Linked DNA regions of Homo sapiens: region 2 is linked to region 1. The links come from fine-mapping of genetic effects on gene expression. Tissue or cell type: tibial artery. Region 1 holds a variant in brackets; the other region holds the start of a gene. All regions are shown on one strand. Distances are between the middles of the regions.

The links. PIP is the estimated chance that this variant, and not a neighbour inherited with it, causes the effect.
Region 2: RNF20 starts here. The variant in region 1 is fine-mapped to the expression of RNF20 in tibial artery (GTEx, PIP 0.94).

What each region holds. Positions count from the first base shown.
Region 1 is chr9:101,552,643-101,560,627 of GRCh38, forward strand. It overlaps RNF20 (ring finger protein 20), which reads left to right. Exons shown (of 20, transcript NM_019592.7): 13 at 1-111; 14 at 1,346-1,463; 15 at 2,052-2,201; 16 at 4,742-4,954. Among named protein-coding and RNA genes, the nearest start is that of RNF20, 23 kb to the left of the region's middle. RefSeq lists a silencer at 1,565-1,782. The variant T/C (reference allele first, on the strand shown) is at 4,135.
Region 2 is chr9:101,531,740-101,536,739 of GRCh38, forward strand. It overlaps RNF20 (ring finger protein 20), which reads left to right and starts at 2,114. Exons shown (of 20, transcript NM_019592.7): 1 at 2,114-2,175; 2 at 3,659-3,813. The coding sequence starts at 3,685. It also overlaps a transcript of PGAP4 not described here. RefSeq lists an enhancer at 1,856-1,985.

The sequences.
Region 1 (7,985 bases):
AAAAGAGTCAGAAAAAGAGAGAGATTCTGCTAAGGATAAAGAGAAAGGCAAACATGATGATGGACGGAAAAAGGAAGCAGAAATTATCAAACAATTGAAGATTGAACTCAAGTAAGAACCACATTTAGAGTAACAGTTTCGACTGAAAAGCTAAGATTAAGACATCATGCATGAAATGTTTGGTTGATGGCATGGCTTGTCTGATCGTTTTAATGTTTTAGATTGTACAATTAATTTGGTTTCAAGTCGTGTTCAAGTGCACAGCCAAAATGGCTTGCATGGCTATTTAGTACTTTGGTTCAGTGATCGAGTATCAGCAAACCGATGATGGTAGCCTTATTTTTATGAATCCAAATTAAGGAAAAGGATGTCATGATTGAGGTAATACTTCTGAGAATTATTGGGAATTAACTACTGCTCTTCACTGGATTTGAGCAGATTGCTGGCGTTAATTGTAATTTAAATGATATTAAGTGGAGTATTTATATATCACTGTAACTTGAACAATATCTGATCTATTTGCCTGAGAGTTAACTGGTTTGTGAATATGCCATATCTTTCTTAGGAGATTTACTCCTATACACATTGACACACTAAGATAGACCTTTAACTTGTTGAATTTTTCTGTGTCATAACCTTATGCATTGGCCCTTCTCCTGTATAACCAATAACTTCTCTGGCAGAACGGCTTACTTCTTGCTCCTTACTTTCTATGGTTGATCCTTTGTTGATGTTTGGACTTGAGAGACCACTGTGCTCAAAATGCTTGAACTCTTTTGGTATATAAAAGTATAGTTAAGAGGTTTAGTAATTTAATAAGAGGTGAAGTTTTAGTCTTTGGCTGATGGTTAATCACTCAGCTGTCAAATCTAGGATTAACAGTATATCTCAGACTTTCAAATTTTTCCCTTTTATTTCTCCCTCTTGAACTCTTTAAGGCAATTTTTTTTTTTTCTGGTGTGGTATCAGAATCATCTGAGTGACTTGTTTAAATCACTTGTTTAAATTTTTGAACTCCATCCCCAGACCTACTGAATCTCAGTTACCCAGGGTTGGGGGCCACAGAAATTTGCCTATATAACAAGTACACAAATGTCTGTTTTATAACTTTGTTAGAGGACTTTGAAGGGAGAAATGATTCATTTTTATACAGCTTACTTTTCTGTACTTTCTAAGCATATCCAAAAGTCTTTTGATAGTCTGTGCAAAATTTTATCTTTTAGGTGTGATATGAAATGTAAAATGAAACTGTTTTAAAATATTCTGCTCAATCAAAATTCCCTTGCTCTGATGACCTTTATTTTCTTATTACATTGTTCCCCTCCCTCTACTACGCCTGTCATAGGAAGGCACAGGAGAGCCAAAAGGAGATGAAACTATTGCTGGATATGTACCGTTCTGCCCCAAAGGAACAGAGAGACAAAGTTCAGCTGATGGCAGCTGAGAAGAAGTCTAAGGCAGAGGTATTCTAGTCTGCTATTACCTGTCCTTCTGGTTAAAATCTTCATTTGTGGGATTTTCCTTTATACTTGCCAACGATATAATTTCTTTCTTTATCTTTAAAATAAGTGTTTAAGTGCAACATTTTCTGCCTTTTCAAAGACCATCTGAAGTAGAGATTTTAAAACTCTCCATAGGATGGTAAAATATATCTGAATTACTGGGGTTATGAGTAGGCTTTCCAAAGTATGTATTCCTTGTTTTTCCTATGTAATTCATTGCTACAGGGATAATCTTTTTCATTACTTTTGGGAGGAATGTCTTATGCTCTTAAAATTTTGAGGCCTAAAAAAAAGGATGGGAACCACTATTCTAAAGAAAGTTACCTGTGCACTTCTCAAAAGTGTTGCTTATAGAAGCATGTCATAGTAGAATGGAGTGATGTTAAAACAGATGGTGTTATGTAATGTTTTAGTATATTATGTACCTTGTTCTATAATTCTGTAAAGACTCTTTTGGTATTATGAACCTTCTATCTTTGCACAGTATTAATTGATTTTTGAAAATGTGTTATAACTTTTTATTTTTGTGCAATTCCTTTCCTCTTATAGTTGGAAGATCTAAGGCAAAGACTCAAGGATCTGGAAGATAAAGAGAAGAAAGAGAACAAGAAAATGGCTGATGAGGATGCCTTGAGGAAGATCCGGGCAGTGGAGGAGCAGATAGAATACCTACAGAAGAAGCTAGCCATGGCCAAGCAGGTGGACTCACTTTCTTTATTTAATTGACTTTTTGAGTAAATGTTACTTGACAATAAGTTATTGCCAGTGAAATTTGCTTTTTTATTTTGGTCTTTTTTTGATTGTTAATGTGTATTTTTCCTTTTTGTGTGTGTGTTTTAATTCTTACCTTCAAGTCTTTTATCTTTCTGTTATTTTGTTTTGTGTATTTGTGAGGCAAGAAATTTACTTTTATTTAAATGGACATTTATTGAAGATCTAGTCTTTCTCTGCTGTTGTTCAGACAGTTATTGAAGATCTAGTCTTTCTTTGCTGACCTGGAATTAAGGGTTATAGTGAATATAAAATGAAAAATAAGACATAAGATTTTATATACATTATGATTACAAATATATGAAACTAAGAAAACTATGCTTATAAATATATATCATTATATATTTCTATGTAGTACATATACTACACAGAAAAACTATGCTTATAAATATGTGATTTATATATAATAAGGATATAATCTATTAACCAATATAATAACATTGATTAAGCAGTATGTTAACTATGGCTATTTTGGGGTCATAGAACTATAGAGATTGTTCTCCTCCTTATAATGAATATGTATGTATTTTTAAATGCCAGGGAATTTTTATTAAAATTCAATAATAAAGATACTGAAAATGCTTGAAAAAACCATATATGTATTCTCTGTTAGTACACCTTCATTGTTTCTAAGAAATAGCAAAATAACAGTGAGATGGAGTAGGTTTAATGGTAAGTTGATCATGAAGTGCCTTGAAAAGAAGAACTTCATTAGATCCTATACACATTCCTTTTGTTAACAAGTGTAATTTTGGGCTGGGCGCGGTGGCTCATGCCTGTAATCCCAGCACTTTGGGAGGCCGAGGTGGATGGATCACCTGAAGTCGGGAGTTCAAGACCAGCCTGACCAACATGGAGAAACCCCATCACTATTAAAAAAAAAAAAAAACAAAATTAGCTGGGCTTGGTGGCGCATGCCTGTAATCCCAGCTACTTGGGAGGCTGAGGCAGGAGAATTGCTGGAACCCAGGAGTGGAGGTTGCAGTGAGCCGAGATGGCGCCATTGCACTCCAGCCTGGGCAACAAGAGCAAAACTCCATCTCAAAAAAAAAAAAAGTGTAATTTTGACTTTTCTTAAATCTGGTAAATGCCACTTTTTTTTTTCTTCCCTCTCTCTTAAGGTAATTATCAGGAAATTATACTATTATAGGTTCTAGAACAAGTAAAAAGAAAGACACTATGTTCTTGTATACGATGACTATCTTAAAAATGTTCAGTCTTTCTAAGTTTATGTATTAATATAATGTGATCTCATAAAAGTGCTTTTTTTAAGTTTTGCTTTTGTTTATTTTGGTACTAGAAGAACTGGTTTTAAAGTACATGTGGAGAAGTAAACAAGAGTAACAAGAGAAATTGAAAAAGAACAGCACTGGGGTCTCTTCCATATATTAAAACATAAAGTTTCTGTAGATGAAATAGCTTGGGACTACTAGACAGGCTATTAGAACTGAATAGAAACTTGAGAAGTAGTTGAAAGTACACATGATACTTATTATGTGCTAAATACATAGTTTTAAATCAGTGGGGAAAAGAAAAACTGTGACATGTGATGGGACAAAATTAAAAAAAATAATGTTAGAGAAAAGTTAGATACATACTTGAATACACTAGGATGATTTCCAAATGGATCATAGATATGATATTTTAAAAAATGCATCCATCAAAAAGCTAGAAGAAAACCATTAAATTCCTTTATAATTTGGAGTGGAGACCTTTCTATGAATAAAAGGCTAGAAAACATGAACAAAAAATTGATAATTTTGAGTTATTTTTTAAAATGATGCAAAACTTCTACACTGCAAAAAACACTGTTAGCAAAGCCAAAAGATTAAATGACAAAAAGTAAAAAATATTTTTAACT[T/C]TTATTACAAAGAAGGCTTATCTGATACAAAAAAAACTCTCCAAAATAGGGAAAAAAACTCAAGAATCCAGTGGAAGAATAGGCAAAAGAAATGAGTTGGTTATGGAAAGAATACAAGTGGTCTTAACCATATGAAAAGATGCTCAGTCTCACTTAAAATGAGATAGATATAAAGTAAAGCTATTATTAGATACCAGTCTTCACCTATCAGATTGTTACAAGGCTTTAGATGTTTGCAACTGCTGGAAATCCTGTAGATCCAGTATTTTAATTGTGGAAAAGCATGAGAAAATGTGAGAGGTTATGATGGAAGTACTCTTAACCAATTGCTGCTTGATCCGTTTGTCTAGATTAAGGTAAATACAATTATTGTCTAATTTAACTGACGTTGAGTACAGATCAACTAATAAGTATCAGACCAACAATTGGTGCCAGTGACTTCAGATAATAGAGCTTCTGTATGCCTAGTGACAAAACACAACTTCTTAAAACTCTGTCACTAAATTAATTTATATCTAAATGAACAGTGGGAAAATTTAGTTTCCTGTGCTCTTCCATTGAAGTTGGAAGATTCTTCTAAAATCAAATCTCTTCCTTCATCCTTTAGGAAGAAGAAGCACTCCTCTCTGAAATGGATGTCACAGGCCAGGCCTTTGAAGACATGCAGGAGCAAAATATCCGTTTGATGCAGCAATTGCGGGAGAAGGATGATGCAAATTTCAAGCTCATGTCAGAGCGTATCAAGTCCAATCAGATCCATAAGTTGCTTAAAGAAGAGAAGGAGGAGCTGGCAGACCAGGTGTTGACTCTGAAGACTCAGGTAATTAGGATGAGTAGAGCTTTCTATTCTGTTGAAATAGGGTGCTTTCTACATGATGATATAAGTAAAAGAATGATTATTGTGGCACATTTTTGTGATTGGAAAAAAATTTGAAAACTAAATGTTCATCATTAGGGTATTGGTAAATAAATTATACATCTCTACTGTTATTCCTACAAAAGAGTACAGTGTACTTGTCAAATATGGATCTGCTAATATGGAAACATGTCTGAAATAAAATCAAGTGACGTGTTTTGTTATCCTTTTTGCGTTAAAGTATATGTTTACTTGTGTTCCTGTGCTGTATATTTTAAAAATTTCTGGAAGGCTGCATGAGAAACTGTTAGAATTGTTACTTCTGGATATTGGGATGAGTTGTGGGTGAGGTTAGGAGGTATGTGTGATTTTACTTTTTTTTTTTTTTTTTTAAATTTCCATAGGTTTTGGGGAACATGTGGTGTTTGGTTACATGAATAAGTTCTTTAGTGGTGATACCAAGATTTTGGTGCACCCATAACCCAAGCAGTGTACATTGTACCCAGTGTGTAGTCTATTGTACCCAGTGTGTAGTCTGTTGTCCCTTGCCTCCCTCCGCCAAGTCACCAAAGTTTATTGTATCATTCTTATGCCTTTGCGTCCTCACAGCTTAGCTCCTACTTATGAGTGAGGACATACAATGTTTGGTTTTCCATTCCTGAGTTACTTCACTTAGAATATTGGTCTCCAATTCCAATTCCATCCGGATTGCTGTGAATGCCATTATTTTGTTCCTTTTTATGGCTGAGTAGTATTCCATGGCGTGACTTTTCCTCTGGGTAGATACCCGGAAGTGGGATTGCGGAATCAAGTGGTAGGTCTACTTTTAGTTCATTAAGGACTCTCCATACTGTTTTCCATAGTGATTGTACTAGTTTACATTCCCACCAACAGTGTAAAAGTGTTCCCTTTTCATCACATCCATGCCAACACCTATTATTTTTTGATTTTTTGATTATGGCCATTCCTGCAAAGTGAGGTGGTGTTGCATTGAGGTTTTGATTTACATTTCCCTGATAATTAATGATGTTGAACATTTTTCTTATGTTCGTTGGCCATTTGTATATATTCTTTTGAGAATTGTATATTCATGTCCTTAGCCCACTTTTTGGTGGGATTGTTTGTTTTGTTCTTGCTGATTTGTTTGAGTTCCTTGTAGATTCTGGATATTAGTCCTTTGTTGGATGTATAGATTTTTTTCTCCCACTCTATGGGTTGTCTGTTTACCCTGATGATTATTTCTTTTGCTGTGCAGAAGCTTTTTCGTTTAATTAAGTTTCATCTATTTATCATTTCTTTTGTTGCATTTGCTTTTGGGTTCTTGGTCATGAAGTCTTTGCCTAAGCCATTGTCTAGAAGGATTTTTCCAATATTGCTTTCTAGAATTTTTATGGTTTCAGGTCTTAGATTTAAGTCTTTGATCCATCTTGAGTTGATTTTTGTATAGGGTGAGAGATGAGGATCTAGTTCCATTCTTCTACATGTGGCTTGCCAATTATCCTACCACCATTTGTTGAATAGGGTGTCCCTTCCCACTTTATGTTTTTGTTTGGTTTGTCAAAGATCAGTTGACTACGTATTTGGCTTTATTTCTGGGTTCTCTATTCTGTTACATTGGTTTACATGCCTATTTTTATACCAGTACCATGCTGTTTTTGTGACTATGGCTTTATAGTATAGGTTGAAGTCAGGTAATGTGATGCCTCCAGATTTGTTCATTTTGCTTAGTCTTGCTTTGGCTATGTATGCTCTTTTTTGGTTCCATATGCGTTTTAGGATTGTTTGTTCTAGTTCCGTGAAGAATGATGTTGGTATTTTGATGGGAATTGCATTTCATTTGTAGATTGCTTTTGGCAGTATGGTCATTTTCACAATATTGATTCTACCCATCCACGAGCATGGGATGTGTTTCCATTTGTTTGTGTCATCTGTGATTTCTTTCAGCAGTGTTTTGTAATTTTTCTTGTCGAGGTCTTTCACGTTCTTGGTTAAGTATATTCCTAAGTATTTTATTTTATTTTTTTTGCAGCTGTTGTCAAAGGGTTTGAGTTCTTGATATGATTCTCAGTTTGGTTGCTGTTGGTGTATAGCAGAGCTCTGATTTGTGTACATTAATTTTGTATAGTGAAGCTTTGCTGAATTCATTTACCAGTTCTAGCACCTTTCTGGATGAGTCTTTAGGGTTTTCTAGGTATATGATAATGTAATCAGCAAACAGTGACAGTTTGACTTCCTCATTACCAATTTGGATGCCTTTTATTTCTTTCTCTTGTCTGATTGCTCTGGCTAGGACTTCCAGTGCCATGTTGAATGGAAGTGGTGAGAGTGGCATCTGTGTCTTGTTCCAGTTCTCAGGGGGAATGCTTTCAACTTTTCCTTGTTCAGTATAATGTTGGCTGTGGGATTGTCATAGATGGCTTTTATTACCTTAAGGTATGTCCCTTCTATGCTGATTTTGCTAGAGTTTTAATCATAAAAGGATGCTGGATTTTGTCAAATGCTTTTTCTGCATCTATTGAGATGATCATGTGATTTTTTAAAAATTCTGTTTATATGGTGTATCAGATTTATTGACTTGTGGATGTCAAACCATCCCTGTATCCCTGGTGTGAGACCCACTTGATCATGGTGGACTATCTTTTTGATATGCTTTTTGAAGGCAGTGTGAGAAACTGTTAGAATGGTTACCTCTACATATTGGGATGAGTTGTGGGTGAGGTTAGGAGGTGGGTGTTTGTGATTTTACTTTTTACACTTTAATATTGTTTGATTCTACTTTGTGCATTAATTTCAAAAAAGACTCTTTTAGAATGTCTAGCCATTCTGAAGGAAATACTCTTGGACTTTTGTTTGAGTTCTAATTTATATGTTATAGTATGAATTGCCAGGTTTTAAGCATTAGCATGCATTCTCTATTTTTGGCAATTTGGAAAAGAATCTTTTCAGTCATTTTTCAGACTCTTACTGAATCTTCCACAATATTTTATATTAAAAG
Region 2 (5,000 bases), 22 kb before region 1:
CATGAAAAAAATCCTGGTTCTGCTAAGGTGAGGGAAGGGGAATAGCTGTTGGGTAGATCACCAATAATGTCCACCAGACACTTACGTAGTACCAGCAATTGATTTATCACAATGTAACACACAAGTGATGATACTCAAATTAAACTATACTAGTGCTAAGGAACCAGTAAAGATTAGTGGGGATTATGGTAAACAAGAATAACATGATCTATTAATAAAAGAGAGCCACGCCAAGCGTGGTGGCTCATTGCCAGTAGCTGTGGCTCAGGCCTGTAATCTCAGCACTTTGGGAGGCTGAGGTGGATGGATCGTCCGAGGTCAGGAGTTTGAGACCGGCCTAGCCAACATGGCGAAACCCCATCTCTACTAAAAATACAAAAATTAGCCAGGTGTGGTGGCGTGTGCCTGTGATCCCACCCACTTGGGAGGCTGAGGCATGGGAATTGCTTGAACCTGTGAGGTGGAGTTTGCAGTGAGCCGAGATTGTGCCACTGCACTCCAGCCTGGGTGACAGAGTAAGACTCTGTCTCGAAAAAAAGAAAAAAAAAAAAAAAGAAGAAGCCACTACTTTGCTCTAAGCAATGTGACCATGCAAAAATATAACCCTTCTGTTGCAAGATCATCAACATTTTTTAGAGAAACTGATAATTTGGATTTTTATGTAAAATAGCCATATTTTAAATGTTGGCAACTAAGTTCATTTTTGTTCTTGTTTTTAACCACGCAGGACAGCCAATACTGTCTAAAATAAACAAAGCATAACTGTTGGCTAAATGCAGTCTGTGAACCTCTAGTTTTCTGGGCTAGAAAAACCATTACTTGCCATTCAGTAGTTCTATGAATGAAAGGCTTGCTAAGAGTAGAGGAACCAAAGAAGATGAGAGAATGAGTGTCATTGTCTCATACAATGCTTTTCGGCAGGTGTGTCCCCACTCACATGTTCTCAGGCTCCCACTTCACGGAATGAAATGTGAAGTCCACTTGGGGCCAGTTAATTCTTTCCAAGATAGTCAAGGTGTTCCACTGCCAGGCACCAGGAACACTTGTTTCCCTGGTGTTGACCATCTTACTTCATTTACAGGTAAGCCCTAGCAGGTACAGGGACAAAAGTCTTCACACTAACAGAAATCCAGTGTAGATTAGCTTCTTTTTTTCCCAAGATGCCTAAATTCTATTTTTTAAAAAAGATATAGCGATCATTCTTCCATTTCTAGACCCTTAGCTGACGTCATTAGGTAGTTTATCATAGTTCTGCGAGACATACAGCTTTTCATTAATAGGTTAGATTAATTACCGTCCTATCATTAAAACGCATTTAGTTTAACTGAATGGAAAATAGCAGTTTGTCATAAACTTAAAAAAAAAAATCAATGCTTAATTAGCTTAAAATAGACTAGTACTGAGATCAGAGACTGATTGGCGTTTATCTTTTCCCTGGACAATTTCTTGTTCCCAAAAAAGCACAAGGGCAGTAGTTGTCACTCCTGCTTACGCATTAGAATCTAGTGGATGGAAATGCGGGGTTTGGGGGGAGGAGATGAGGGGAACGCTTTTTTAAAAAAGCTTTTGTCCAGGCCAAGTGATTCTAATGTGTAGACAGGGCAGAATACCGCTCCCTGTGCGGGGGAAAAAATCCCCAACATCTGAAATTCCTCAAATCCCTCAGATTCTCTCCAGAACTCTTCATTTCAGCACGTAGGGGTACCAACGAACAATTTTCTGAGGTGTCTGAGGCTAGTCATGTCCCCGGAGATTGACGGGACCGTCAGCCAATCGGCCGTCTGAACGAGTGATGGCAACCCCAATGACAAGCAACAGAATGAGGAACTTTATCCCCGCAGAAAGACCAGATCGCAGTAGCAAAGGTCAACAAGTCAACAAAAGCCAAGGGCTCTCCGTCAGGCATCAGCGAGGCCCGAGTACTCTTAGAGGTCGTAGCCAGGAGAGGGTCCCGCGCTTGCCCAGCGTTGCTAGGGAGGCGGCGCTTGCTCAAGCTTCTCGTGCCCTCTCCGTACGTCACTTCCGCCCGGCGGGGTCTCATAGTCCTATGGGCTGGGTTGAAGCCACTTCCTTTTTTCTTTCCCTTTTTCCTCTCCGTGGCCCCGCCTCCCGGAAGTTCTGCCTTGTCTCCGCCGCGGGTCAGGGGTGAGAGCTGGAATCTCTGCACGGGCCTTGGTGAGTAACTGCTGCGAGTTCTGTTCCCGCGCGGCGCCAGTTCAAAGAACTTAGGTTAGATCACGCTTAGGGCCCAACAGGACTGTGCCAGGCCTCAGGAGTCTCCACCCTCTCCAGTTTTGGGGCCGTCAGTCTCCTGGGCCTGCAATTATCCACGCTGAGGCTGAGGTCTTTGGCTTTTAGCGAGTTGGATTGCAGCCTTGTTCTGCTTCTGTGTCTTCTCTCTCCAGGCGAGGTCCTACTGAGGTTGTTGCCAGCGATAGTCCTCTCCTGGAGCTTGAATTGGAAGCAGAGTAGTCTTGTTAGTCTCGGTGATGGCTGCGTTGTTTCCTGAAGTAGCCAAAGTGCTTTAGCATCCATTCCGCCTCCTTTGAGCACCCTGGGAGGTAGGCAGGGCAGACGAAAAATATATTCGTTAATATTGTGCAGTTGAGGAAACTGAAGCTCTTGGCGAATTCACTGTTTCAAAGCAACACGGCCTCTAACAGGCAGAACTGAAATTCGCACCCAGGTCTAACTAACGTAGGGTTGCATAAAACAGTGGAGAGAGCGTTTGGAAATAGGGAAAACACTGCAAACGTTAAAGAAGAGCTGGGGTTTCTGAGTGCTTACTTTGTGTTCGGCTTTGTGCCAAATTCTTTCTATAATTATATCATCCATTTTATTTTATAATAAGCATAGGAAGTATATACTGTGGTTATTTATTCCTGGGTTAGGAAACTGAGGCTTAGAGATGATAACTGACTTGTCTAGTACTAATGACTTTAGTAGGCATTTCACAGATCTCTTTCAGCTCTGTGATTCTTTCAACACTGTAGTATTAACTTCTGGCATAATCAAACTGCCCTTTTCTGATTTTGGCATTACAGGAAGAGAGATTCCAGAACTTTATTTTTGGTCTCTTCACCCTTTGCCCATTGTCTCATTTCTTATCACCATTCTTATCACCATCCTATTTAGAAATTTATAGTCATGTAAATTTAGCCTTGACTTTCTTTTTTTTTTTTTTTTGAGACGGAGTCCCGCTCTGTTGCCCAGGCTGGAGTGCTGTGGTGCGATCTCGGCTCACTGCAAGCTCCGCCTCCCGGGTTCAAGTGATTCTCCTGCCTTAGCCTCCCGAGTAGCTGGGACTACCGGCGCCCGCCACCACGCCTGGCTAATTTTTTGTATTTTTAGTAGAGACGGGGTTTCACCGTGTTAGGCAGGATGGTCTCGATCTTCTGACCTCTTGATCCGCCCGCCTCGGCCTCCCAAAGTGCTGGGATTACAGACATGAGCCACCGCGCCCGGCCCGCCTTGACTTTTACTCTACAATTTAATTTTTTTTTTTTTTCCTCAAAGAGAAATATGGAGATGGTTGTGGAATTAATGGATCCAGGTTAAAGGGTTGGCCAGAAAAGTTGCTAGTTTTTACTCTATTGTTTTACTCTATTGTTGCTTTGCTTACATATATTATGTCAGTTTCTGCCTTTTTTTCTATCAGGAAAACGACTGTCTTCTTCTGCCAAAATGTCAGGAATTGGAAATAAAAGAGCAGCTGGAGAACCTGGCACCTCCATGCCTCCTGAGAAGAAGGCAGCTGTTGAAGATTCAGGGACCACAGTGGAAACAATTAAGCTAGGAGGTGTCTCTTCAACGGTATGAGGAAACAGTGCCATGAAAGTGTGCTTGTCTTCTGTCAGTTGCAACTTGAAACTAAAAATTCATGGAAGCTTTCTGGAGTATGGGGAAGCTATTTGAAAAGAAGAGGGAAATAAAACAGGCTGAAAGTAGGTAAAATGATGTGGTAGTCAGTTCTAGAGGAGAGGTAGATTGATAGTTGTTCTTTGTTTTCAAGGTGTACTTATATTCTTTCGAGAATCTGGGAAGGTGGTGCCTGATACAACATTAACTATAGGTATTTAGCAGTGGGAAGATACACATTTATTTTTCATTCACTGAAAAAGTCAGTACCAGATTCTAAGAGACAGTTTAGCAATCATTGAGAGTATGGTGAAGAGTGAGAGTCTGAGACCAGATTGCCTGGAGTTGACTCTGAGCTGTACCACTTCCTAGCTGGCTGACCTTGTGTTATCCTTCCTTTGCCTGTTTTCTTGTCTGTAAAATGTAATTAGAGTACCTGCTACATTAGATTTTTATGCATATAAAATAAGAGTCCCTGTTAAGGGCTAACACTTTGCATTTAATATAGTAAATAGTCAATAAATGGGAGGCATTCATAGCTAATATTGGGCTAGATAATATAATGGTGCATAACATAGATATTATCCTTGCTCTTATGGAGCTGACAAAATGAGTATTATATACCAAAATCTCATAGTAATGTTATATATCTGTTAGACATCAGAAGTTTACAGGTTTTGATCTACGTCAAGATTTTGCTTTTTTGAAAATCAGACATGGGGATGTGATATTAAAATGTTTTACATTTTGTAAAATGCTTTACATTTGTATGGCTTGCAAAACCACATCTATTGCTTATTTGATTTTGAGGCTGAGGTTTATTTTAGAGAGGCTGATTTTTTTTTTTGAGTCAGAATAATAGGAACATTCATAGTGAGTTGTTGATGAAGTGTCATTTCTGAGGCTGCCTGAGGTTCTGGTACTTAATATTGCTGGCAGGAAGTGATTTTTGTTTTAGCACTGCCTTGCATCATGCATTCCAAAGGCATTTATTCACTCAATATATAAATATTTGTTGAGTATTTGTTATTTGCCAGACACTATCCTTTACACTGAAGACAGCCCCTAGACTTTAGTTTGTAGGGTAGCACTGACAAGGGAATAGACTGTTTAGAGTGGGGTATGTGCTGTTGACAGGGATA